5 separate regions of the Homo sapiens genome follow, and regions 1, 2, 3 and 4 are each linked to region 5. Evidence: fine-mapped expression QTL. A gene starts in region 5. Each other region holds a variant in brackets. All regions are shown on one strand. Distances are between the middles of the regions.

Region 1 (5,000 bases), 31 kb before region 5:
TCCAGCACTTTGGGAGGCCAAGGCAGGCGGTTCACGAGGTCAGGAGATTGAGACCATCCTGGCTAACACAGTGAAACTCCGTCTCTACTAAAAATACAAAAAACTAGCTGGGCGTGGTGGTGGGCGCCTATAGTCCCAGCTACTCAGGAGGCTGAGGCAGGAGAATGGCATGAACCCAGGAGGCGGAGCTTGCAGTGAGCCGAGGTCACGCCACTGCACTCCAGCCTGGGCAACAAGAGCAAGACTCCATCTCAAAAAAAAAAAATAATAATCTGGAAAACCTCTTCTGGGGGCTCTTATAAAAGTAGATTTGTCCAAATTGACTTCTGATCTGAGGCCAGAGACAACCACAGGGCAGAGCTGGAGACTGGGCTGTTTTGAAGGAAGAAGGACTGGCAGACCAGCTCTTGGGAAAGCTCCATTATTGCCTGTGGGAGGCTGGACCTGAACTTGCACCTATGAACAACCCTGCCATTTAGAGCTTTTTCCTGGGGGTGCCGGCGGCTGGTGACCAGACTGCCATTCTCCACGTTCTCCCTGGTGCTTCCGACTCTGTCCTCTAGGTTGGAAGTGGTTTGTGTAAACGGGTGATGGGACCAGGTCACATCATTTCTGCATTTAAGACAGCAGGATACTTCCTGGGGCTGAGGTTCAAACTGGTATTGTGACCACCGCTTTGACAGAATTCCATCTTCCCAGCATGATCACATTGTAAGACTATTAGGATGTGTGGGTTTTAACACTTATATACACTTATACAACTGTTGGTTATCATTGTCTTTAGTATTTTACAGTGGCCCCTCAGCACCTCTTAGACCCAACAGCAAAGGACTTAAAATAAGCACAGGAAACCTTGCTATGGTGATTAGTTTTGATACCTTTGAGACAATTGAGTCTAGCTTCTTAGTTGCCCCTTATTTATGTTGAAATCTGGCTCATTCATATGATGTTTTACTGTGCTGGCCTTGTAAAGAATTTTAAGACAATCCATCACCATCAATGTTTTGCCTTTCTCCACTTTCGTGTATCTTACAGTTATACTCACTGGAGGTCATTTGCAGCAAGGCTCTGGAAGAATGAAACTGGTGCCCTGTAATTGCATTTGCATTCAATCTAGGTTTGCCTTCAGGCTTTAAATGCGGCCTGTATGAAGGTCAAGTCTTTTTCTTCAGTCCCTATCAGTAAAGAAAAATCGTTGCCTCTAGAGGGAGCTATCAGCTGTGGGTCAGGTGGCCGTACTGGGGCTAGAGTTGGCCCAGGAAGCTGTACAGGGTTTAGGGAAGGAGGTTCGGAGACAGGGAGCCAAGGCCTCTGTCAGGTCTAGCTTGTGCCGGTCAGACCTGCAGCAGCACCATTCTCCAGGATGACAATTCATCCCATTATTGATGGCAGTGGCCTTTTTATCCTTTTTTTTTTTTTTTTTTTTTTTTGAGATGGAGTTTCGCTCTTGTTGCCCAGGCTGGAGTGCAGTGGCGCAATCTGGGCTCACTGCCACCTCCGCCTCCCGGGTTCAAGTGATTCTCTTGCCTCAACCTCCCGAGTAGCTGGGATTACAGGCATGCGCCACCATGCCTGGCTGATTTTCTATTTTTAGTAGAGAAGGGGTTTCACCATGTTGGCCAGGCTGGTTTTGAACTCCTGTCCTCAGGTGATCCACCTGCCTTGGCCTCCCAAAGTGTTGGGATTACAGGCATGAGCCACCGCACCCGGCTGGTGGCAGTGGCTTTAAGGGCATTTAGAAGAAGGACAAGATTGGACTTTTTATCATTTCCACAGTCTGTTATGGGTCAGATTAGGTAGTAAGGAGTTCTCCATTGGAGCTATTCTTTTTTTTTTTTCTTTTTTTTTGAGACAGAGTCTCGCTCTGTCACCCAGGCTGGGGTGCAGTGGCACGACCTTGGCTCACTACAGCCTCTCCCCTCCCGGGTTCAAGTGATTCTTCTGCCCCAGCCTCCCAAGTAGCTGGGATTACAGGTGAGCGCCACCATGCCTGGCTAATTTTTATATTTTTAGTAGAGATAGGGTTTCACCGTATTGGCTAGGCTGGTCTCGATCTCCTGACCTTGTGATCCGCTTGCCTCGGCCTCCCAAAGTGCTGAAGCAATTTCTTTTTTTTTTTTTTTTTTGAGACAGAGTCTAGCTCTGTCGCCCAGGCTGGGGTGCAGTGGAGTGATCTCGGCTCACTGCAACTTCCGCCTCCCAGGTTTAAGCGATTCTCCTGCCTCAGCCTCCTGAGTAGCTGGGATTACAGGCGTATGCCACCA[C/T]GCCCAGCTAATTTTTGTATTTTTAGTAGAGACAGGGTTTCACCATGTTGGTCAGGCTGGTCTCGAACTCCTGACCTCGTGATCCGCCCGCCTTGGCCTCCGAAAGTGCTGGGATTACAGGCGTGAGCCACTGCGCCTGGCCTGAAGCTATTCTTTACAAAAGCTCTTAGTTTTTGTTTGTTTGTTTGTTTTTTTCTTTTGCGACGGACTCTCTGTCGCCAAGGCTGGAGTGCAGTGGCCTGATCTCAGGTCACTGCAACCTCTGCCTCCTGGGTTCAAGCGATTCTCCTGCTTCAGCCTCCCAAGTAGCTGGGATTACAGGCGCCTGCCACCACACCCAGCTAATTTTTGTATTTTTAGTAGAGATGGCGTTTCACTTTATTGGTCAGGCTGGTCTCGAACTTCCAACCTCAGGGGATCCGCCTGCCTTGGCCTCCCAAGGTGTTGGGATTACAGGCATAAGACACTGTGCCTGGGCCTCTTAGTAATTTTTGTATGTAATTTTCAAAGTATCCGGGATTACAGGCGCCCGCCACTACACTAGCTAATTTTTTTTGTATTTTTAGTAGAGATGGGGTTTTACTATGTTGGCTAGGCTGGTCTCGAGCTCCTGACCTCGTGATCCGTCCACCTTGGCCTCCCAAAGTGCTGGGATTACAGGCGTGAGCCACCGCGCCCGGCCTAGGTCATTTGTTTTTGGGTTTGGATGGCAAGATCATGGATAAGACAGCAGGCTTTGATTATAGAGCTCTGAGTTCAAATCCTGGCTCTACCACTTGTCAGTGGTGTAACTTGGAGGAAGATGCTTAGCCTGAGCCTGTTTTATGTTTTGAAGATTGGGTAATTGTCCTTCCTTCAGTGTTCCTGGGTGAGGAGTAAGTGAAGTCATGTCTATAAGAGATGTAGCACAGTCTCCGGCATGTAGAAACGGTCAGTAACTCCTAGTGTGTAGCTAGCCTCTGATGAGATGGTAAACTCAGGAGGCTGGCACCACGGCTGTGCTACTCACGGTCATGCTGGAGGGATGCAGAAACTAAATGAATCCACAGCTACTTACTCATCTTGCCTCTGGCAGGTTCACCTTAAAATTGTTGCTACCAAGCTTCCTGTGGTCAAAGAGCCCTTGAGGAAGCAAGCTCCACGGCCACCATAGATAACCCATTCCTGAAAGTTTTTCATAAACCCCCACTTGTTGCTTTTAAAATTTTATAAGCAGCTTACACATGTAGAAAATGATCCTCCAGCCCACCACCACATAGTAATCACTGACACTGTGAGGTGTCTCAGCTGGGGTTCTGCTGTGTGTGTGTGTATTTTACAAAATATGTATGGTTTCTGTTCAGCTCTTTTCAGTTAACAGATGAACTTTTGTATCATTAAATATTTTTGAAAACATGAATTTAGTTGTGTAATTTTATGTAGATAGGTCATTTTATTCCAGGTAATCACTTAAATGCTTAGAAGAAACTATAGTGAAAAAACACTGGGAGGAAAAAAAATGTTGAAAGGCGGTTAATGAAGTGTGGAGACTCCAGCAAATGCTTGTGATGTGTTTGTTTGTTTGTTTTGTTGTGCCCTTTTTTTTCTTTTTGAGACAGAGTCTCTTTTGCCCAGGCTGGAGTGCGATGGTGCAATCTCGGCTCACTGCAATTTCCACCTCCCAGATTCAAGCAATTCTCCTGCCTCAGCTTCCCCAGTAGCTGGGACGACAGGCAGGCACCACCACACCCAGCTCACTTTTGTATTTTTACTAGAGAGGGGGTTTCACCATATTGGCCAGGCTGGTCTTAAACTGACCTCAGGTGTTCCACCCGCCTCGGCCTCCCAAAGTGCTGGGATTACAGGCATGAGCCACTGTGCCTGGCCTGTTTTGTTGTTGTTGTTTTTAACCATTGAAGTATTGAGTGCAGTGGGAGTTTATTTTTTCAGTATTTTTAATTTTTATTTGTCACTGACTTGAAGCTCAAGTGGGAGTTTAATTTTCCTGTCTTGGTTCATATGTAAGTAAAGAGGGGATGTTGCATTCTTTCTGGACTGTCTTTGGGAGTGTATTAGAAGGAAACAGGGCTTTGCTCCTGGAAGAGTTCAAGTTTTAAAAAACTAAAATGACTCATGCCTGTAATCCCAGCACCTTGGAAGGCTGAGGCAGGAGGATCACTTGAGGCCAAGAGTTTGAGATCAGCCTGGTCAACATAGTGAGACACCATCTACTTAAAAGAAAAACAAAAAAAAAACTGAAACAAACCCCCACCTAGTGCTGTGCCGATAAAACTGCCTCTCGGCAGCGAGGACTCAGCCCTTGTCTTCCCACACCTCATAGGGTTGGGCCTAGCAGAGAGAGATTGGCTGACAAGCCCAGCCTGAACAGTGGCTAAAGTAAATATGGGGGCCATCTATGCAGTAAGTGGGGAAGCCTACGTGATGTTCAGGGCCTTTTCAGAAAGACCTTGCTAAGTTAAGTATTCCCAAGGCTTTGCCAGGAAGAGCGGTAGCCGCCGAGTTGGGGGCAGCAGGTCCAGTCTGCAGTGCCAGGAGCTGAGCAAGCAAAGTCTTGCGAATCAGCAGAGTTCAGCTGGGCAGACATGTGCTGGGCTGGGAAGCCAAGGGTAGCTATGGTAACCGGCCCTGAGGCGGCTGCGGTGCTCTGCAGACTGGCTTGGGTTTTTCTAATGTTTTGAGGCTCACTTGATCTCCCGCTGTGACCAGCCCCTCTCTGCCTGGCAGGGGAAAGCCACC
Region 2 (5,167 bases), 450 kb after region 5:
ATCAGTGCCCCAGTCGCAGTGTGGAAGGTAAATGAAGTGGGAGGCTGGGAGAGCACGTAGAGTCTGGAGGTGCCTGGCTGCGGGTGACTAGCTGCGAAGGCCTTGGCAATTGAAATGGTTTGTCCCCAAAGGCCCAAGCCCACTCTGTCAGATCCCCACATGTCGCCCTGGTCGGGGGGCCTGCGCCTCACTACTGGGTGGTAGCTGCAGCCTAACATGCTCCGAATGAGGCCCTCTCCTTCCCTGGGTCCACTGCTCCTCTCTGTCCCTTTCTGTCTCAGCACCTGCCCATCAGTGGCCAAGCCCTGTGGACGTGGCTTCTGACGTCCTTTTTTCAGGCCCTGCACCCCTTCATTCTCTCTCTGTGCAGTTCCTGGAGCTCAGCCGTCCTGCACCTTTCCTGGGCACTGTCTGGTCTCCTTGCATTAGCCTCTCTCTTCCCTGTCTTACTCCCTGCTACCAGGCTTCCTTCCTAGAGCAGATCTCTGACCCCTGCCCTGCTCAAACACCATAGATGGCTCCCCAGTGCCCTCTGAGTGCATCTGTGCCCCATCGCTAGGCATTCGAGGCCCCCCACCAACATCCACCTCTACAGCCAGCCTCTCTTTATTCTCCATCATGTCCCTGATGGCCCAGGCTGGGTAACTGTCACTTCCTGTTCTCTGTGCACACCTCTGAGCTGTGGCTCAGGCTGTTGTATCTACTGGAATATGCTTCCCAGCCTCTGCGTTGAATCCTGCCCAGCCTTCAAGGACCAGATCCAAGCCCCTGCTGCCTTCTCCGTGAAGTCTTCTTGGCTCTCAGCTGGCTGTGGCCCCTCCTTCCTTGGACCCCAAATGCTCTTTGGGCTTCTCCTGTGACGTGCTCTGCCTTCTGGAGATCATCAGGGCTATTTGAGACCTGGGGTACATGGAAGTATTGCTCCCAATCCTTCACCCCTCTCTGTACCCATGCCCTTTGCCATGTGACTTTATAGCTCCTCCCACTGGTGGGGGCAATATATTTCCAGCCCCTTGACTGTGGGCTGGTTCCTGAGACTTACTTTGGCCAAAAGCACGTGAGCAGAGGTGACAGCGCTCTGACCCCAACCATAGGCCGTAAGAGACCCTGCATGTTTCTGCTTTTCCTCTGGTACTTTTGCCATGGGAAGGACATGCCTGGGGTAGGCCCCAGTTAAGCATGGGAAGATGGAGGACATGGGGATCCAACTTGCAGCTTGGAGACAAACCCAGCCAAGCCAGCTTAGACGAGCTGCCTGGTCAACCCGCAGACACGGGAGCAAGGAAGAGATGCTGATTGCTGCGTGGCACTGAGTTTTGGAGTTGTTTGTTATGCAGCACTTGGTGGACAGCTGATTGGCACAGTGTCCTATGCCAATTCCTTGCCTGGGAGCTGCATGGGGGCAGGGCACATGCCTTGAACGCCTCTGCCCTGTGAGAGGGCCAGGCCTAAGTAACTGAAAGAACCATCCAATAGCCATGTTTAGTGGTATGCTTGGTGTGATGAGGGTGCCCTACTAGGAGTGGCCCCCAGCCTGTTAACAAACAAAGACCCTAGCCCTTAGAGGTCATCTCCAGAGCCCCCACAAGAGACACCCAAGTGACCCCCTGGAGATCCAACGGGTAGGATGGCCAGAGCCTGTGGGCACCAGAATTGGGGCTGAGAGCCTAGAGGGTAAGCTTCAGAGCTTCCCTTGGGGCCAGGAAGGCCACCTGGAAATGAAGGTTCTTAAGCACAGGGATCCCGGCGGGGGGGACAACATGTTGAGCCTGTGGGGTTTTGAGGGCCTTGAGTGGGCTGGAAGGCTCTCACTTGGTCACTGGATAATTTACTTGGCCCCTCCTAGGGGCAGGCCCTTGGAGCTGGATGGTCTGTACCTGTGGGCAGCCCTTTTGAGCTGGCAGGTCTGCACCTGGGATTTTCCTGCCTGCTCATCAGACCTCACCCCTTCCCTTCTGAGGACTGAGGCTGCTCCCGGCTCTCTGAGGA[T/C]GCAGTTCAGGTACATGTTTTGTTTCACTGATGAAATCCCCTGGGATGAGCGGCATATGTTTGTTAGGATCTGTTATACCATGTGTACATACATCACAATACAAACATTTCATCCAGGGAAAGCATTTGCAAGCCGGAGTTCAGATTTAACTATCTTAAGCAAAATCTTATCTACCAAAATTTCAGTAGGATCTAAGAGTTGGCCATGTCTTCAGAGCTCCCTGTAAGGAGCAGGACCTCCGAGGAGGCACTGAAGGCGTGGCACAGATCACTCTGAGCATCTAGGTCCACGGTCCCCATCAGAGGTGCTATGGCTGGCAAACGGGGGGGGGGGTGGGGAGTGGGGGCGCGGGGAGAGAAAAGCTACATGGAAATACATTGCCACCTCCATGACCACTGCCTGGCACATTGGCAACGATCCCCAAAGCACTGTTACCAGATGTCCGGGTCCGAATAGAGAGACCTCCCGGCCTGACCGCCAAGATGCAGCAATGCATACCAGGGACCTGCTGCCAGAAGCCGTGCCAATTCCCCAAACAGTCCCAAGGCATGGGGAGGCTGCTGCCCATGGGCTCCAGGCAGCCCTGACATTTTACTTCCTAGGGTTGGAGGCTGCACCAAGAACATGCATCCCCTGCCTTACAGGTGAGGGAGAGGCAGCCCAGAGAGAGGAACGGGTCTCCCCAAGAGCACCCTGCAGGGCCCTAAGCCTGGCATCTTGATGTCACATCCTGCTGGGGCACAGTCTCTCGCCAGGTGCCCGGTTTGTTAATTCACCAACAGAAAAACATATCAGAAAGATGTCACTGATCCACGTCGTATCAGTACTGCACACCCCCAAGCAGGCATTAACCTTCAATGAGCCTGAGGAGCTCTGTGAGTTCCAGATCAGGTCAAACCCACAGGCAAAGGGGGAACGGATGGGCTCGCCACGTCCTGTACTCTGATAATGGAAGCAGGGCAAGCTGGTGACCACAGGAAGACATCTCCCTCACTGCCTGATGAGTGAAGCTTTAACGGTAGATTTGGCTGAGAGCTTGGCAGTCATCAAAAGCCCATTTGCTCAAATCAAAGCAAACTTCTGGCAGACCAACACATACAATTAACCTGACTTCACATTTTCCATCAGGACATTGCACAGCATCCTGTGGGTAGGCACAGAGGGTGATGAGCAGAGCCTGGGGGTCTCGGGGGCTTTGGCTTCAGAGAATACACCAGCACACCCTGCTCGGCAAGGGTGCAGTCCTCCCACCCGCTCCCTGGCCTTCGGCTCGCTGGGTTTTAGGGAGAATGAAGACTCATTACCTGTAAAACTGGAGCTGTCTTTTGGGACTCCCATACCGAGTACTTCGGACAGCAATGGAGAAAAGAGAAAAAGGAGAAAGGGAGAGAAGAGAGAGAGTCCACAGTTGGCATCAACCCCAGCAGGTGCAGGTCAGAAAGAACCACCAATGTCCCATGCCCCCGGGCCCCCACCAGTCGCCTGCTCAGGGCAGTCTCTGAGGAAGCGCAGCCGGTGCCAAGTGCTCTGCAGCAGCGCCACCCGGTGGCCACGGGGCAGAGACCCGGAGCCAGTTTCCTGGACACCAAGGGCTCCTTCCATGCCAGGCCCTGTTTTCCGTGGTGAACCTCCGAGTGAGGGTTGGTTTGGATTGAATGTGCTTCAGGACTTGCTTTGCAATATGCTTGTGGGCAATGGCTGAAAACCCTCCAACCCAGACGTGCAGAGCACCCGCGTGCTGGCAAACCCGCACCTGCCCGCCTGGCTCTTCTTAGGACAGACACTGCCTTTCCCTGTGGCTGTCACAGACACGGGCTCTGGCTCAGGCCCCAGTGATTATCCGGAAAGGTCTGGCTTCCCAAGACTGATGGGCTGCTGGGGTACTGCCTGTGCCTGCGTCTTTCGTGGGTTCTATGCTCTGTCCCCAGAGGCTCAGCTCTCACTGAACGCCCTCCGCAGCTGTCGCTGATGTTCAGCGCTGTTTATGGTGCAGACAGAAACACCCAGGGCTGCAAGCGGAAGTGAGTTCCACAAGGAGGGGGTCAGGATGCCCCAGGAGCATTTGGCCGCCCCCACTCCCTCCAGTGTTGGGAAACCGGCAGACGTGGTTCCCCAAAGGCCTGCAAGGTCGTCATCCTCGCTCAGGAGAAACTGGCAGGGCCACAGGGGCTGCGATGTATAAAGTGGGAGGAACAGGATGCCGGGGTTGGCCGTGCACTCACTGTCCGGCCGCTCTGTTAACCTCAAACGAGATATTTCGGAAGGGTCAGGGACAAGAAAGGAGTCTACTCTGGCTCAAACGCCCTGGAAAAGTTTTGGTTTTTCTTTCCCACTTGGGTTTTTAAAGCCCCTGCTCCTTTCTTGGAGAAAACGCTCACCAGCGTGCACCTCAAAACCCCGTGGAAGGCAGAAGCCTGTGGGCCCTGCTTGGGCCCTTCCACCTCCAGAGGGGAGGACAGTGGCCTTGGGAACCCGTCCTCGAAGCAGGACTGACCCTGGGAGGGGGCCTGGGTGAGGGGGCAGGGGGTCACCTGTAGATCATCCCGGGGGAGCCCGTCTGCCGCAGCGAGAGCCGAGCCGGGGAGCCCGTCGTTGATTCTGGATACATGGAGCCAGCCTCACTTATCCAGACTTGCTCGGTTTTTTACAGTGGGAAAATTCTGGAAGAAAAGCAAAATAAGGGAGGGGAAGAGGGTGGTGGTTAAAAAAGATCAACCAGGTTTGGCCGGGAGACTCTGGGATCACAAAGGCTGAGGAGGCTGTCTGGGTTCAGGGCATCGGGGAGCCCCTCAGCAGAGAGACAGACAGACAGACGACAGACAGACACACGGCAGGCAGGCAGGTCCACGGGCTCAGGAGGGGCTGGAGAGCAGGTGACAACTGTGAGAAGGGTTTCCACACTCCATCACTCCACACTCCCACCTTATATGTCGTGGAGGTCCTTCCACACCACCCCAACTGTTGTTCTGAAACCGTAGGTGTAGTTTCTGCTGCCCACATGGTGCAGAAGAGACCGCCCAGGGGGCATCTGTGTACTTTCTGAGCTCCTGACTGCACTGCTGTCCCCCAGGGTCATCGCTGACACTGTCCCTTGCCCTGACTCCAGCCCAGTGCAGCTTCCTGGTGCTGCCATTGAGCTCCTAAGTCAGGCAGCTTCTCAGATGCCACTGATGTCCG
Region 3 (5,167 bases), 28 kb after region 5:
TCCTGCTCTGGTGGAGGGGAAACTTGTGAGGGGCTGGTAAGCGCCCCCTCCGAAGCCTGGTGTGTGCGCGGGGGGAAGGAAGTTAGTTTCCTCTCCACCCATGGGCACCCCTTCTGCCCGGGGCCTGGGAAGTGGGCTGCTCTGTGGGCAAATGCTGGGGCCTCTGAAATGGAGGAGACGCAGCAGGGAGAGGCCCCACGTGGGCAGCTGCGCTGAGAGTCAGCAGCACCTGTCCCCCAGGCGCTCCTCCTGGTGCTGCTGGGGGCCCGGGCCCAGGGCGGCACTCGTAGCCCCAGGTGTGACTGTGCCGGTGACTTCCACAAGAAGATTGGTCTGTTTTGTTGCAGAGGCTGCCCAGCGGGTAAGTGGCCACAGGGGTGGGAGAGGCATGGGGCAGGCAGGGCTGGAGAGGTGGCGGGCAGGCCCGGGAGGTAAGAGGAGGCTGGCAGGGGAGGTAGGGGTAGGCTGACAGAGAAGTAGGGAGCTGGAGAGAAAGAGGGAGGGAGGGCAGGGTGGGAAGCAGGTCGGGGGTTGCTGGGCAGCCCCTCTGCCTGCCTGACCCCTGCCTGGTTCCACAGGGCACTACCTGAAGGCCCCTTGCACGGAGCCCTGCGGCAACTCCACCTGCCTTGTGTGTCCCCAAGACACCTTCTTGGCCTGGGAGAACCACCATAATTCTGAATGTGCCCGCTGCCAGGCCTGTGATGAGCAGGGTGAGGGGCTTCTCAGTGCTTGGCAGGGAGTTCCTAAGGACAGGCCTTTCTGAAGGAAGTGGCTGGCTCGGGCCCAAACTTGGGGTGTGAGGGTCCTGCACCCACCCTTGCCAGAACCCTCCACCCTGATCCTCCTTCAGGGTGCCCTTGCCCCTTCTCTCTTCCTGGTGACCTTCCCATCTCTCCATGTGCCTTGGCCTCTGGTCGGCCTTAATCTCTGAGCTTCTCTCTTTTTTAGGGTAGCCCTGTACCTGTCTGTCTTTCGCCTATTTCTGTCTCCATTATCTTGGGATAATGCCTCTGCCTCTCCATGGGAGCCTTTGGCCCTGACTAACTCTCCACTCCCCATCTCCCTGCACCCCCACCAGCCTCCCAGGTGGCGCTGGAGAACTGTTCAGCAGTGGCCGACACCCGCTGTGGCTGTAAGCCAGGCTGGTTTGTGGAGTGCCAGGTCAGCCAATGTGTCAGCAGTTCACCCTTCTACTGCCAACCATGCCTAGACTGCGGGGCCCTGCACCGCCACACACGGCTACTCTGTGAGTACCCCCACCCAGGGCTCTCTACTCCCAGACCCCCTTCTCCCTGCCTGACCCACTCCTGTCCCATGGTGACGCATGCCTCTCCTGGATTGCAGGTTCCCGCAGAGATACTGACTGTGGGACCTGCCTGCCTGGCTTCTATGAACATGGCGATGGCTGCGTGTCCTGCCCCACGTAATTCCTAGCTGTCGTGGGATGGAGGGAAGGGCGGCTGGGAGCAGAGCAGGGGCCTGGGGTGGGGCAGGTGCTGCTGGTTCAGGAATAGGAAGAGGGGATAGGGAGGAGGGAGCCTTGGCCCTGTGATGGGTGGGCCCCACTTCAGGCAAACTTAGATGGCAAAAGAGCAATCTGGATCCGCCTTAGCCAGATACATAAGGGTATTTGCCTTCACTTTCAGCCAGCATTCCCCCCAGCGATCCTAGCCAGATATTACAGATGATTTGTCACTTACACAGAGAGTCACATTGATATAGCTTTAAAACTTGGGCTGAAGGAGGTTGAGGCTGCAGTGAGCTATGATCGTGCCACTGCACTTCAGCCTGGGCAACAGAGCGAGACCTATTAAATAAATAAATAAATATTAAATCTATTAAATATTAAATATTAAATCTATTAAATAAATAAATACAAAGGGCTGAGAGTCAGGACTGTGCTGCTAGTTCTCTAGGGGATCTTGGGCAAGTGCAGAGAATTCGCGTCTCTGATGTGTGGTGTCCCTTTCTCAACATGGGATGTTAGCAGCTAATTCACAGGCCTTTGATCAGAGGTAAGGGACTTTCTGTAGCTATTCAAGTCTTTTTTTTTTTTTTTTTTTTTTTTTTTTGAGATGGAGACTTGCTCTGTCACCCAGGCTGGAGTGCAGTGGCACGATCTTGGCTCACTACAACCTCTGCTGCCTGGGTTCAAGTGATTCTCCTGCCTCAGCCTCCCAAGTAGCTGGGACTACAGGAGCCCACCACCACCCCCGGCTAATTTTTTGTATTTTTAGTAGAGACGGGGTTTCACCGTGTTAGCCAAGATGGTCTTGATCACCTGACCTCGTGATCCACCCGCCTTGGCCTCCCAAAGTGCTGGGATTACAGGCATGAGCCACCGCGCCCGGCCTCCATTCAAGTCTTTATTGAATATCTGCTATGTTCTACACACTGTTCTAGGTGCTGGGGATGCAACAGGGGACA[A/G]AATAGGCAAAATCCCTGTCCTTTTGGGGTTGACATTCTAGTGACTCTTCATGTAGTCTAGAAGAAGCTCAGTGAATAGTGTCTGTGGTTGTTACCAGGGACACAATGACAGGAACATTCTTGGGTAGAGTGAGAGGCCTGGGGAGGGAAGGGTCTCTAGGATGGAGCAGATGCTGGGCAGTCTTAGGGAGCCCCTCCTGGCATGCACCCCCTCATCCCTCAGGCCACCCCCGTCCCTTGCAGGAGCACCCTGGGGAGCTGTCCAGAGCGCTGTGCCGCTGTCTGTGGCTGGAGGCAGAGTAGGTGGTGTGCTGGGAATGCGAGTGGGAGAACTGGGATGGACCGAGGGGAGGCGGGTGAGGAGGGGGGCAACCACCCAACACCCACCAGCTGCTTTCAGTGTTCTGGGTCCAGGTGCTCCTGGCTGGCCTTGTGGTCCCCCTCCTGCTTGGGGCCACCCTGACCTACACATACCGCCACTGCTGGCCTCACAAGCCCCTGGTTACTGGTAAGTACACACACCCACACACGCACCCAGAAGCCTGGGGTCAGGATGGGTAGCCCAGAGTCTACTCAACCCTGATACAGAAGGGGAAACTGAGGCAGGGAGTGTGGGGTGCAGAGGAACCCTAGAGGAGCTGTACCAGCACCCAGGTCCAGGAGGCTTGCCTGGTGGCTGACCGCAATCTCTCTGTGTCTGTCAGCAGATGAAGCTGGGATGGAGGCTCTGACCCCACCACCGGTAAGAACCTCACTGTGTGATTCTGGGCTGCCTTCTGGAGCTGGAAGATCAAGCCTTACTATGATCCCTGGAGCTTGGCACGCGGCCAGCACCGGGTAGCCCTAGTGGACAGAGGTGTTGGGAGCAGAGTCATCAGTGGATGAGACCAGCACAGTGCCTGCCCTCAAGGGGTGCTCAGTCAGCTGGAGTTCAGATTCGTACACAGGAGCTAACAGTTCAATGGAAGGAGAGCCCCATGGTGCTGGGGGACAAGAGGAAGGAGGCGGGGGCAGGGGACTCAAGGCAGAAGCAAGAGTTCTGCTGGGCTACAGTGAGAGCAGGGCCAACTGTGGGAGGTGTCATTGCGGGGGTGTCTGCTGACTGAACCAGGGACTGTCCCCTCCTGGAGAGGCACTGCGGGTAAGGGGCCTTACTTGGCAAGCAGGGCTGACCTGGGGCCCCTCTTGGCTTCCAGGCCACCCATCTGTCACCCTTGGACAGCGCCCACACCCTTCTAGCACCTCCTGACAGCAGTGAGAAGATCTGCACCGTCCAGTTGGTGGGTAACAGCTGGACCCCTGGCTACCCCGAGACCCAGGAGGCGCTCTGCCCGCAGGTGACATGGTCCTGGGACCAGTTGCCCAGCAGAGCTCTTGGTAAGGGACATCAGTGGCCTGAGGCCTTGACCCCATTCTCCTGTCTGCGGTGGGAAGTTGTGGTTTCACAACGTGTTCCCTTTCTGCCCCCTAACTGACGGAGTCCGCCCTATGCCCTGACCCACCGGATCCAGCGGGCTTCAGCCCTGGGGTACCCGCACGAACGCCCCTGACTCTGCCTCCCGACCGCGGCCCACGTACCCCAATTGGCTCTCTCTGGCCCTGCCCCAGGCCCCGCTGCTGCGCCCACACTCTCGCCAGAGTCCCCAGCCGGCTCGCCAGCCATGATGCTGCAGCCGGGCCCGCAGCTCTACGACGTGATGGACGCGGTCCCAGCGCGGCGCTGGAAGGAGTTCGTGCGCACGCTGGGGCTGCGCGAGGCAGAGATCGAAGCCGTGGAGGTGGAGATCGGCCGCTTCCGAGACCAGCAGTACGAGATGCTCAAGCGCTGGCGCCAGCAGCAGCCCGCGGGCCTCGGAGCCGTTTACGCGGCCCTGGAGCGCATGGGGCTGGACGGCTGCGTGGAAGACTTGCGCAGCCGCCTGCAGCGCGGCCCGTGACACGGCGCCCACTTGCCACCTAGGCGCTCTGGTGGCCCTTGCAGAAGCCCTAAGTACGGTTACTTATGCGTGTAGACATTTTATGTCACTTATTAAGCCGCTGGCACGGCCCTGCGTAGCAGCACCAGCCGGCCCCACCCCTGCTCGCCCCTATCGCTCCAGCCAAGGCGAAGAAGCACGAACGAATGTCGAGAGGGGGTGAAGACATTTCTCAACTTCTCGGCCGGAGTTTGGCTGAGATCGCGGTATTAAATCTGTGAAAGAAAACAAAACAAAACAAAAACGGCTTCTTGGCGTTTCTGCGGGGCTGGGGTGTTAAGTGGACTGGACTTTTCTCGAGGGATTCGAAGGGGACGGGAATCTTGTCACCCCGGGATCTGGCACCCATGGTGGAGTCCAGTGTGGCCTTAGCTCCCAAGCCTGCCCCTCCCGAGTCCACTCTGGCTCAATTACCCCGAGAAGGAGAGAGCAAGTCGCGGCCACAGCGAGTGAGTGAACCGGAGCCCAGATGAGAGCGCTTTAATGGGGCTGCGAGGTGGCGGAGACAGGGTCGGGATGGGGTGCAGCAGTTGGAGACACAGGGTCAGGGCCCCTCATCCTCTATTCACTCCACCGGGGCAGTGAAAGGGTCCCGGCAGCGAGTGGGTCTGGCTGGGGACGGGGCGCAGACTTGAGGGAGGTGGGGCCAGAGGTGGGGTCCCGGGGGCCACAAGTGCGGCCCGGCCAGACAGGCAGTTTTCATGTTTCTGGTAAACAAATGACTGAGAGGAAACCCTTGGCGGGGATAAGAAATGAGGCCC
Region 4 (5,000 bases), 50 kb before region 5:
CACAAAGTGCTGGGATTACAGATATAAGCCACCATGCCAGATCTGAAATTTTACCTTTACAACAACAACAGAGGTGGGTTATGGTGGCTTACATCTGCAGTCGCAGCACTTTGGGAGGCAAAAGTGGGAGGCTGGCTTGAGCCAAGGAGTTCGAGTCTACAGTGAGCTATGTCACACCATTGCACTCCAGCCTGGGCAACAGAGTGACACTGTGTCTCTAAATAAATAAATAAATAAATAAAGCCTGGGCGCAGTGGCTCACGCCTGTAATCCCAAGCCTTTGGGATGCTGAGGCGGGCAGATCACGAGGTCAGGAGATCGAGACCATCCTGGCTAACACGGGGAAACCCCGTCTCTACTAAAAATACAAAACATTAGCTGGGCGTGGTGGCAGGCACCTGTAGTCCCAGCTATTCGGGAGGCTGAGGCAGGAGAATGGCGTGAACCTGGGAGGAGGAGCTTGCAGTGAGCCGAGATGGTGCCGCTGCACTCCAGCGTGGGCGACAGAGCAAGACTCTGTCTCAAAAAAAAAAAAGAAAAAAAGGCTGGGCACCGTGGCTTCTGCCTGTAATCCCAGCACTTTGGGAAGCTGAGGTAGGAGGATTGCGTGAGCCCAGGAGTTTCGGACCAGCCTGGGCAACGTAATGAGACCCTGTCTCTACAAAAAATTTAGAAATTAGTCAGGCATGGTGGCATGTGCCTGTGGTCCCAGCTACTTGGGAGGCTAAGGAGGGAGTATTGCTTGAGCCCAGGAGGTCGAGGCTGCAGTGAGTTCTGATCACTGCACTCCAGCCTGGGTGACTCGGTGACACCCTGTCTCAAGAAAAAATAAACTTATATGAAAAATGGCTGAGTGTTAGCTCATGCCTGTAATCCCAGCACTTTGGGAGGCCGAGGCAGGTGGATCACTTGAGTTCAGGAGTTCAAGACCAGCCTGGCCAACATGGTGAAACCCTGTCTCTGCTAAAAATACAAAAATTAGCTGGGCACGGTGGCTCATGCCTGTAATCCCAGCACTTTGGGAGGCTGAGGCAGGCGGATCCCAAGGTCAGGAGATCGAGACCATCCTGGCTAACACTGTGAAACCCCGTCTCTACTAAAAATAGAAAAAATTAGCCGGGCGTGGTGGCACATGCCTGTAATCCCAGCTACTTGGGAGGCTGAGGCAGGAGAATTGCTCAAGCCCGGGAGACGGAGGTTATAGTGAGCCAAGATCGCGCCACTGCACTCCAACCTGGGCGACAGAGCAGGACTCCATCTCAAAAAAAAAATTCAGCTGGGCTCAGTGCCTCAGGCCTATAATCCCAGCACTTTGGGGGACCGAGGTGGGCAGATCACGAACGAGATCAGGAGATCGAGACCATCCTGGCTAACATGGTGAAACCCTGTCTCTACTAAAAATACAAAAATTAGCCGGGCATGGTGGTGGGTGCCTGTAGTCCCAGCTACTCCGGAGGCTGAGGCAGGAGAATGGCATGAACCCAGGAGGTGGAGCTTGCAGTGAGCCGAGATTGTGCACTGCAGCCCAGCCTGGGCAACAGCGTGAGACTCCATCGTAAAAAAAAAAAAAAAATCTGAAAGAGCAAGTTGTTATCCGTGTTACAAATGGACATTGTGACCATGCCTGCACTGCGTTTCTCTGGACTCGTTTTTAAACAGCGATTGTCATCTTGAGGCTTCACTTCTAAAGTGCTGTGTGTGGTGGATTATGCCTGCGTGTCACATGAAATCTTTACTGTGTGATTATCCTTTCTACTGAGTAAAGCTAGTTAGGATTTTCTTTCTTTTTTCTTTTTTAAAAATTTGCAGTCTTCCCTGCGTTGACTATTTGGAATGTGATCTGGGACAGACAGAATTTACCCCTCCTGGTTGCATTTCTTTGCTTAATATTACAGAACCAGTTCTGGGTATGTATTACATATTTCTCAAATGTCTTGGTTTTATGAAATTCATATGTGATGATGCTAACAAAAACTCAGAAATCGAAGAGTATAAAATATTAAAAGGGAACATGCGCCTACCAAACTCATGGTCTTTCCATAACTTGTTCCTCTAACCTCCAAAAAACAAACTATGGTGCTTTCTCATTTTAGGAAATGGAACTGCTACTCATTTTGTTTTATGAAATTAGTTGGGTATGGTGGCAAAAATTATTTTGTTTTATGTAAATTAGAAACACATGTTTCCCT[A/G]ATTTCAACATCTTATGTACAACTATCGAGACTAAGAAATTAATACTGAATCAATACTGTTAATCAGGCTGCCTGTGGTGGCTCACACTTGTAATCCCAGCACTTGGGGAGGCTGAGGCTGGTGCATCACCTGAGGTAGGGAGTTCGAGACAAGCCTGGCCAACATGGGGAAACCCCATCTCTACTACAAATACAAAAATTAGCTGGGCATGGTGGTGCACGCCTGTAGTCCCAGCTCCTCGGGAGGCTGAAGCAGGAGAATTGCTTGACCGGGAGACGGAAGTTGCAATGAGCTGAGGTCAAGCCACTGACTCCAGCCTGGGCGGCAGAGCAAGTCTCCATCTCAAAACCCAAAAAAACAAAAATTAGCTGGGTTTGGTGGCACGTGCCTATAGTCCCAGCTACTTGGGACGCCGAGGCAGGAGAATCGCATGAACCCAGGGGTGGAGGTTGCAGTGAGCCAAGATCATTCCACTGCACTCCAACCTGGGCAACAGAGTGAGATTCTATCTCAAAAAAAAAAAAAAAAAAAAAAACGCTGTTAACCAGTCTACAGATTTTATTGAAAATTCACCAGTTATCCACAGTTCTACATCACTTAAAAAAAATAATATGTTATCCTTGTGCGGGGCCCATTGCCAGTCTTCTCTGTATCATTCCAGTTTTTTAGTATATGTGCTGCTGGAGTAAGTACCACCTTGCTTGCTTTTTTTTTTTTAAGATGGAGTCTTGCTCTGTCACCTAGGCAGGCTAGAGTGCAGTGGTGTGATCTGTGCTCACTGTAACCCCCGCCTCCTGAGTTCGAGCTATTCTCCTGTATCAGCCTCCTGAGTAGCTGTGACTGCAGGCGCACGCCACCATGCCCAGCTAATTTTTGTATTTTTAGTAGAGACAGCGTTTCACCATGTTGGCCAGGCTGGTCTCGAACTCCTGACCTCAGGTCATCTACTCACCTCTGACTCCCAAGTTCTGGGATTGTAGGCATGAGCCACTGTGCCTGGCCACAACTTTTTTGTTGTGTTTGCAACGTGGTGAGACCCTGTCTCTACAAAAAATTTAAAAATTAGTCGGGTGTGGTTTTTTGTCATCCCAAAATGAAAACTGTACTCATTAAAGAATAACTCTCGGCTGGGCTTGGTGGCTCATGCCTGTAATCCCAGCACTTTGGGAGACCAAGGCGGGTGGATCACGAGGTTAGGAGATCGAGACCATCCTGGCTAACATGGTGAAACCCCGTCTCTACTAAAAATACAAAAAATTAGCCAGGCGTAGTGGCGGGCGCCTGTAGTCCCAGCTACTTGGGAGGCTGAGGCAGGAGAATGGCATGAACCCAGGAGGCGGAGCTTGCAGTGAGCTGAGCTCTCACCACTGCACTCCAGCCTGGGCGACAGAGCAAGACTCTGTCTCAAAAAAAAAAAAAAAAGAATAACTCTCCTTGGGAGGCTGAGGCAGGAGAATCGCTTGAACCCGGGAGGGAGAGGTTGCGGTGAGCCGAGATCTCACCACTGCACTCCAGTCTGGGCAGCAAGAGCAAAACTCTGTCTCAAAAAAAAGAGTAACTCCCTTAACTCCCTCTTGTCCTCCTCTTGTCCTCTTTCCTAGCCCCTAGAGACTTCACCTCTGTTCTACTTTTTGTCCCTATGAATTTGGCTATTCTCATGTAAGTGGAGTCACACAATACTTATCCTTTGTCTGGCTTATTTCACTCAGCATAGTATTGTCAAAATCCATCCATGTTGTAGCATGTATCAAAATTTAATTCCTGGCCAGGTGCCATGGCTCACACCTGTAATCCCAGCACTTTGGGAGGCCAAGGCCGGCAGATTGCTTGAGCCTGGGAGTTTGAGACCAGGGTAGCATGGTGAAACCCAGTCCCTATTAAAAAAAATACAAAAGTTAGCTGGGCTTGGTGGTCCATGCCTATAGTCCCAGATATTTGGGAGTCTGAGGCAGGAGGATCACTTGAACCTGGGAGGTAGAGGCTGCAGTGAGCTGAAATTGCACCATTACACTCCAGCCTGGGTGACAAACAGTGAGATTCTGCCTCAATAAATAATAATAATAATAATTCTTTTTGATGGCTGGATGTTATTCAATTGTATGTGTATATCACATTTAGTTTATCCATTCAGCTGTTAAGGGACACTTGGCTTCTTTCCACATTTTGGCTTTCGTGAATAATCCTGCTATGAACATGGGTATTCAAATATCTCCTCCATATCCTGCTTTCAGTTCTTTCAGGTGTATACCGAGGAGTGGAATTGCTGGGTCTTATGGTAGTTCTGTGTTTAATGTTTTGAGAACTGCCAAACTGTTTTTCACAGTAGCTGCATTTTACATTCCCAGCAGCAATGCACAAGAGTTCTGATTTCTCCGTATCCTCACCAATGCTTATTTTGATTATAGCTGTCTGAGTTTGTGTGAAGTAATGTCTCATGTTGGTTTTCATTTACATTCCCTTAAATGACTAATGATGTTGAGCATGTACTTATTGGCCATTTGTATATCTTCTTTGGAAAAATGTCTGTTCCAGTCCTTGAATATTGCTTGTGTGTTTTTTTTGTTCGTTTGTTTCTGAGACAGAGTCTTGCTCTTTCGCCCAGGCTGAGGTGCAGTGGCGTGATCTCAGCTCACTACAGCCTCCACCTCCCGGGTTCAAGCAGTTCTCCTGCCTCAGCCTCCCAAGTAGCTGGAACTACACCACGCCTGGCTAATTTTTGTATTTTTAGTAGAGATAGGGTTTCACCACATTGGCCAGGCTGGTCTCGAACTCCTGGCCTCAGGCGATCCACCTGCCTCAGCATCCCAAAA
Region 5 (5,167 bases):
ACCCTGTCTCAAAAATAACAGGCCAGGCGCAGGGGCTCATGCCTGTAATCCCAGCACTTTGGGAGGCCAAGGTGGGCAGATCACTTGAGGTCAGGAGTTCGAGACTAGTCTGGGCAACATGGTGAAACCCCATCTCTACCAAAAATATAAAAAATAATTAGCCGGACATGGTGGCACACACCTGTAATCCCAGCTACTTAGGAGGCTGAGGCAGAAGAATCGCTTGGACCCTGGAGAAGGAGGTTGCAGTGAGCTGAGATCACGCAATTGCACTCCAGCCTGGGCAACAGAGCGAGACTCTGTCTCAAAAAACACCCAATAATAATAATAATAACAATTATTGCTGACCGAACATGTTTACATGCCAGGCGGGGCGTTAGGCCCTCCTGCTTGTCTCAGTGAAGCTTCTTGAGACCCTCAGGAGAACAGCGTTATTCTTATGACCACATGACTTGTAAGGAAACGGAGGCCCAGAGAGGTAGAGGAACTTGCCCACATCACACAGCATGATCGTCAGAGCCTGGCCTGCGTGAGGCTTGTCTGATCAAGAGCCCTATTCTTACTCTCCAGGATGTGACTAGCGTTTTGAAGGAGATGACTTCATTTATTCATTTACCAGACCAGCTCTGAGCATCTGTCGGTGCCAGGCCCAGTTCTAGGCCCAGGAGATCTCCAGAGAACAAAGGGGATGCCCTCCTGGAGGTGACATTCTAGCTGTGCTGGGAGGAAGGAAGGGAAGTGACCCTGGCTGGCCAAACTTCCCCCCAGGCTGCCCTGGCAAAGGACCAATTTCAGGCAGGGCTGGACCCTTCGGCTTCTGGGCCCACCCTTGATGTTTTATTTGAGGCTCTCCTGGGTGCTGGAGCTTCTGAGATGAATTTGCCATCTGTCCCCTACCTCCTGCCCCTGGAGTTCCCACTGGGAGGAGGGCTAACCAGGATGGGCTTCCTGGAGGCAACTGGAGTCCTGAGGATTAAAGAGGTACTGAGATGGAGGACAGCTGAGTGAGCAGGGGGGGACATTGGGGGCTATAAGGGGCAAGCGAGGCCAGGGGGCACAGGGAGAAGGGGACGGGAGGAGGGGGAGGCAGGCTGCACTAGGAGCACCTGCATGTCCAGATGAGGGGTCTGGACTGTGTGTCATGGAGACCCCAGGAGAGAAATGGCCCCTCCCCAGGATGAAGATATGTAGAGCAGTCCACACCTCTGAGCTCCAGGATCAAACCTACTTTTTTCCAGCTGTGCGACCCTGGGGAAGTCACTACACTTCTCTGAACCCCAGGTTCCTCATCTGGAAAATAACCCGGCAGCGAGGATTAAAAGAGGCCCATATATAACATGCTTAGCATAGAGCCTAGCACAGCGTAGGTGTGCAAGGTGTCCTGGGAGTGGGGGTAACAAAGTCACCTCTAGACTTTGGGTGTGCCCTCCGTACCTGCCCTGGGATCTGAGACCTCCCCAGGCTCCATCCCAGCTTCTTGCACACAGGTGGAGCTGTGAGTTTGGGGAGATGGAGAAAGGCCGGGAGATCAAGGCAGACTAATGATATTGTGGGTTCCCCCTGCCCTCCTGTGAGGTGGCCACGGGACAGTGTGTGGACTCCCCAGCTCCTTGCTGGGCTCCACTGGGCACTGTTCGAGGTCTAGTCAGGGCGTCCCAGGTCACAAGGGGGCATGGAGGAGGACACTTGTGGCCCTGGGCCACAGGGGACATTGGGCACCACATGTGAGGGTGTTTATCATGGAGGAGGTAGTGATTCCAGCAGCCGCCATTGATCCAGCACGTACTGTATGCCAGGCCCTGCCTTAGCGCCTGGCACAGAAACCTCATCTGGCCGCCTCCCCCGCTGCGGTGGGGCCTACCCCATCTCCGTTTCCTAGAGAGGGCCCTGCAGAGTGGCGAGGTAAAATGACTTGCCAAGCAAGGCAAGATCAGGACTCAAACCAGGCCTCTCTGTCAGAGCCTCCCATTTCCTCAGAACTCTCAGGAGGAAAGGGAGGTGAATTTTTCTGCACAGCTCCCAAAGGCCTTGACAGGGAGGTGGGGTTCAGCACACTACAGGAAAGAGTTTCCAGCAGCTGGAGCTATCCCCGAAGTGGAGGTAGTGAGCACCCCATCACTAGACATATGCAAGAAGAGACAGAAAGGGAAGCGTAGAGGGGATTGCAGTGTGGAGTGGAGGTTGGATGGGAGGACTTCAGAGTTCCCTTGCAGCTTAACAATGGCCTGTGAGGTGGCAGGGATGAGTCAGGGTATGCGTGTGTGGAGGGAGGGGTGGTGAGATGAAGACCAGGGAGAGGAAAGGGTGGACCTGAGGCCCCCATGGAGAAGGGACGGGCAGGATGTGAGTAATGGGAGAGGCAATCACCTATTCTCCTGGGCAATGCTTTGGGGGTGAGCAGCGGCAGACCAGGATGCCCCAGGGAATGGCCAGGTTTGGGCCATCTCTGGAAGTGACTGGTCCCCGGAGAGAGGTGGTGGGGCTATCTGCAGCTGAAGAAACGGGCAGGGCCAGAGAAACAATGCAAGGGGACTCCTGGGTTTTGGCTAAGTAGTTTTGGGGGAGCAGGTGAAGACGTGGGGATCCCTGGCCCAGCCAGGAGCTGCCCTAGTATAGGCCCAGCCCCAAGGGTTGTGTGGGGCAGTCTGGAGGTTTTGGCCTGGGAAGGGGTCGGGGGAAGGCTGTATAAAAAGCTTGAAAGTGCGGAACAGGTTGGTGGACCTGAACTCCACCTCCTCGAGTGGGCCCCCTGTATCCACACCCTTCCCAGTCCTGAGCCCAGAGTTATTCTAAACTCCCGCTGCTGGGAGAGGGGAACTGGGAACCACTAAATGGCAGAACAGCACCCTTTTCCGGCCATATCACCTGGGCCAGAAAAAAAAAAAAGAGGGGGCCCAGAGAAAAGCGGGCTGTTTCTGGGGCACCGCGGAGGCCGCAGATCAGAATCCAGCTTTTTACAATAGAGCGGAAGCGAACCTGGCTCAGGGCGATTCCGGGGCGGGCTAGGCCTGCGGGTCTCTCTGCCTGGTCCCCCGGGGCTTTTCTGTCGCGCGGAGGCTTCCTGTCGCGGGCCCTGGTCCCCCCTAGCCCCCTTCCGGGATGGGCGAGCTCCCGTCTTCAAGCCCAAGTTAATGACCAGGGACTTTGAACTTTTTGGAGATCTGCAAAGGGCTGGCCCCTCGGGGACAGTGACGCCCCCCACCCCCTCCCCTGAGCCCGGATCCTGGATTACCCCAAGCCACCGCCCGGCCTCCAGCCACCTCCCTGGCTCCGGCGCGGGGCCCTTCCTGGGACCCCTCCTCTCCCCGGTCCCAGCCGGGCGGCGCCGTTGGTACATCCCGGCCGGTCCAGGTGGTAGCGCCCGCGCGGCTACCGTAATTCCCCTACGTCCCGCGCCCCAGTTTGCGCTGAGTCGACTGAGCCCGTCCCGCGGCTCCCGTCCCCCTCTCCCCGCGCGCCCCATGAGGCTTTGGCAGTCTCGGCCCGAGCCTTAGAGCCTTAGACACCGGGGAGGAGACCCTGGTCCTGTTCCTAGGTGAGTCGCGGGGAAGTGGGAGCTGCGCTCCGGACGGGGGGTGGGACTAGGCGCCAGGACCCCCCTAAACCGATGGACAGAACCCGGATTCGAGATTCCCACGTAGTGCCAGGCCTGTGGGTGGGTACAGGGTCCTCACCAGCTGTATCTCCATTTACGTGAGGGTGGAATGGGTTCAAGCTCCCGCCCCCATCACAGTGTCTCTAGGGTGGGTCGGCTCGGAGATAGGGCCGTGAGGAGTCTATGGGACCCTGGCCCCGGTATGGGGGGTATTGGCGGGGCAGGGGGATCCTGGAGGGGCCCGGGCGCGCGGCGTGGCTGGGAGGCTCAGCCGATCCTCCCCATCTGGCCAGTCCCGGAGTCGGTCCCAGGCGGAAAAGCCCTCTCGAGGCCGGCAGGGGGCGCCAGAGGCTGCGCCTCGGGCAGTCTGAGCAGACCCAGGCACCCACTTAGGGGTGGGGGATGCGGGAGACCCGTGAATCCGGGGAGGCCCTGGCCTGCCTTGGTGGAAGTCTGGGAAATGGAGGCCAAGAGGTCCCCTGCAGATTCCTTAGTAACTCCTCAAGTTGAGGGAGCTCGGGGGTATTTTACCATTCTCCTGCCCTTTAGCCGGGGTCCGGGCACACACTAGGACCTGGCAGCCATCCCCAGATACTGAATTCTATGCCCTCTTGGCACAGGTGGGCAAATTGAGGCCCAGTAGGGGAAGGGTGGGGGAACGTAGGCTCCAGACCAGGTCTTCTGAAGCCCAGGCAGGTGCCCTCTTTCCCCCGCTCCCTACCAAGGAGGCTTCTAAGTTGCACCGGGGAAGGGCTTGCTAGTCCAGGTGCTCCGAAGACACACGCTGGGGTCTGGGGCTGGGAACTGCAGAGGCTGGGCAGGAGGGGATGTTCACAGACTGCAGCCCCTCCCTCTTTCTCTAGCACTGGGTCCCAGCCTTGGGCATACTAGCCAGGACCGCTCCCTGGGGAGGAAGGGGCCTTCCTGGCTTCCAGGGCCCGTGCGGTGGGCTTAGCCTGGGGAGAGGTTTTCTGTGTCCCTGCCATCTGCCCGGCACAGGGCAGGGCCTTAGGTCAGGCTCTGACTCCAGGTGAGCCTCAGAACCCAAGGGGTGATGGGTGAGGCCTGGGCCTAGGGGAAAGGAGGGTGGGTAGGCCGGGTGGAGCGTAGAGAGCCGCCTGGCAAAGCCACCCCGCCCTGGCTGGCCTGCCCATGCATGCAGTCTCCACCCCTGGATTTCTAAGGTGTTGGGTGGGGCCTTGGGACTAGCAGGCTCCCAGGGGAGCTTAGCCTTGGTGGGAATTCCTGGCAAGGACATCCCTCCAGCCAGAGAGCTCGGACTCCTGGTTCCAGGCCCGTCTGCTGTCGGCAGAGCCTGGAGCTGGCCCCAGACCTGCGTCCTTTCCTGGACAGGGAAGTCCCTCTCCCACCCAGACCAGGCTGGGGCCCCAGCTCGTTGTGGGGCAGGGATGCCTGGGGGATCCCTGGTTTCCCATCTGCTTTTCTGGGGCTGGGGGAGGTGATACTGAGGGAGAACAGCCGGGTGCGGGGGTCCTGCCTTGGAGACTCCATTATTCATCAGCCTCCGCATCTGGTTTCTGGGTATCAGTTTCAACAAGCCGGCCCTGACTC

The links. PIP is the estimated chance that this variant, and not a neighbour inherited with it, causes the effect.
Region 1: its variant is fine-mapped to the expression of PLEKHG5 in follicular helper T cells (Schmiedel 2018, PIP 0.95).
Region 2: its variant is fine-mapped to the expression of PLEKHG5 in fibroblasts (GTEx, PIP 0.97).
Region 3: its variant is fine-mapped to the expression of PLEKHG5 in cerebellar hemisphere (GTEx, PIP 0.96).
Region 4: its variant is fine-mapped to the expression of PLEKHG5 in whole blood (INTERVAL, PIP 0.96).

Annotation. Positions count from the first base shown.
Region 1 is chr1:6,520,010-6,525,009 of GRCh38, reverse strand. It overlaps NOL9 (nucleolar protein 9), which reads left to right. Exons shown (of 12, transcript NM_024654.5): 12 at 1-3,663. It also overlaps a transcript of PLEKHG5 not described here. Among named protein-coding and RNA genes, the nearest start is that of PLEKHG5, 31 kb to the right of the region's middle. RefSeq lists an enhancer at 4,427-4,721 and a silencer at 4,787-5,000. The variant C/T (reference allele first, on the strand shown) is at 2,265.
Region 2 is chr1:6,040,000-6,045,166 of GRCh38, reverse strand. It overlaps a transcript of KCNAB2 not described here. Among named protein-coding and RNA genes, the nearest start is that of KCNAB2, 3.3 kb to the left of the region's middle. The variant T/C (reference allele first, on the strand shown) is at 1,990.
Region 3 is chr1:6,460,634-6,465,800 of GRCh38, reverse strand. ESPN (espin) reads right to left here. Exons shown (of 13, transcript NM_031475.3): 13 at 4,857-5,167. It overlaps TNFRSF25 (TNF receptor superfamily member 25), which reads left to right. Exons shown (of 10, transcript NM_003790.3): 2 at 241-361; 3 at 579-713; 4 at 1,082-1,249; 5 at 1,348-1,426; 6 at 2,674-2,729; 7 at 2,831-2,938; 8 at 3,135-3,172; 9 at 3,627-3,807; 10 at 4,039-5,015. The coding sequence ends at 4,367. Among named protein-coding and RNA genes, the nearest start is that of TNFRSF25, 3.0 kb to the left of the region's middle. The variant A/G (reference allele first, on the strand shown) is at 2,431.
Region 4 is chr1:6,538,737-6,543,736 of GRCh38, reverse strand. It overlaps NOL9 (nucleolar protein 9), which reads left to right. Exons shown (of 12, transcript NM_024654.5): 6 at 1,810-1,907. It also overlaps the pseudogene RNU6-731P. Among named protein-coding and RNA genes, the nearest start is that of NOL9, 13 kb to the left of the region's middle. The variant A/G (reference allele first, on the strand shown) is at 2,190.
Region 5 is chr1:6,488,813-6,493,979 of GRCh38, reverse strand. PLEKHG5 (pleckstrin homology and RhoGEF domain containing G5) reads left to right here and starts at 2,313. Exons shown (of 21, transcript NM_020631.6): 1 at 2,313-2,343. RefSeq lists silencers at 3,023-3,102, 3,163-3,252, 3,663-4,022.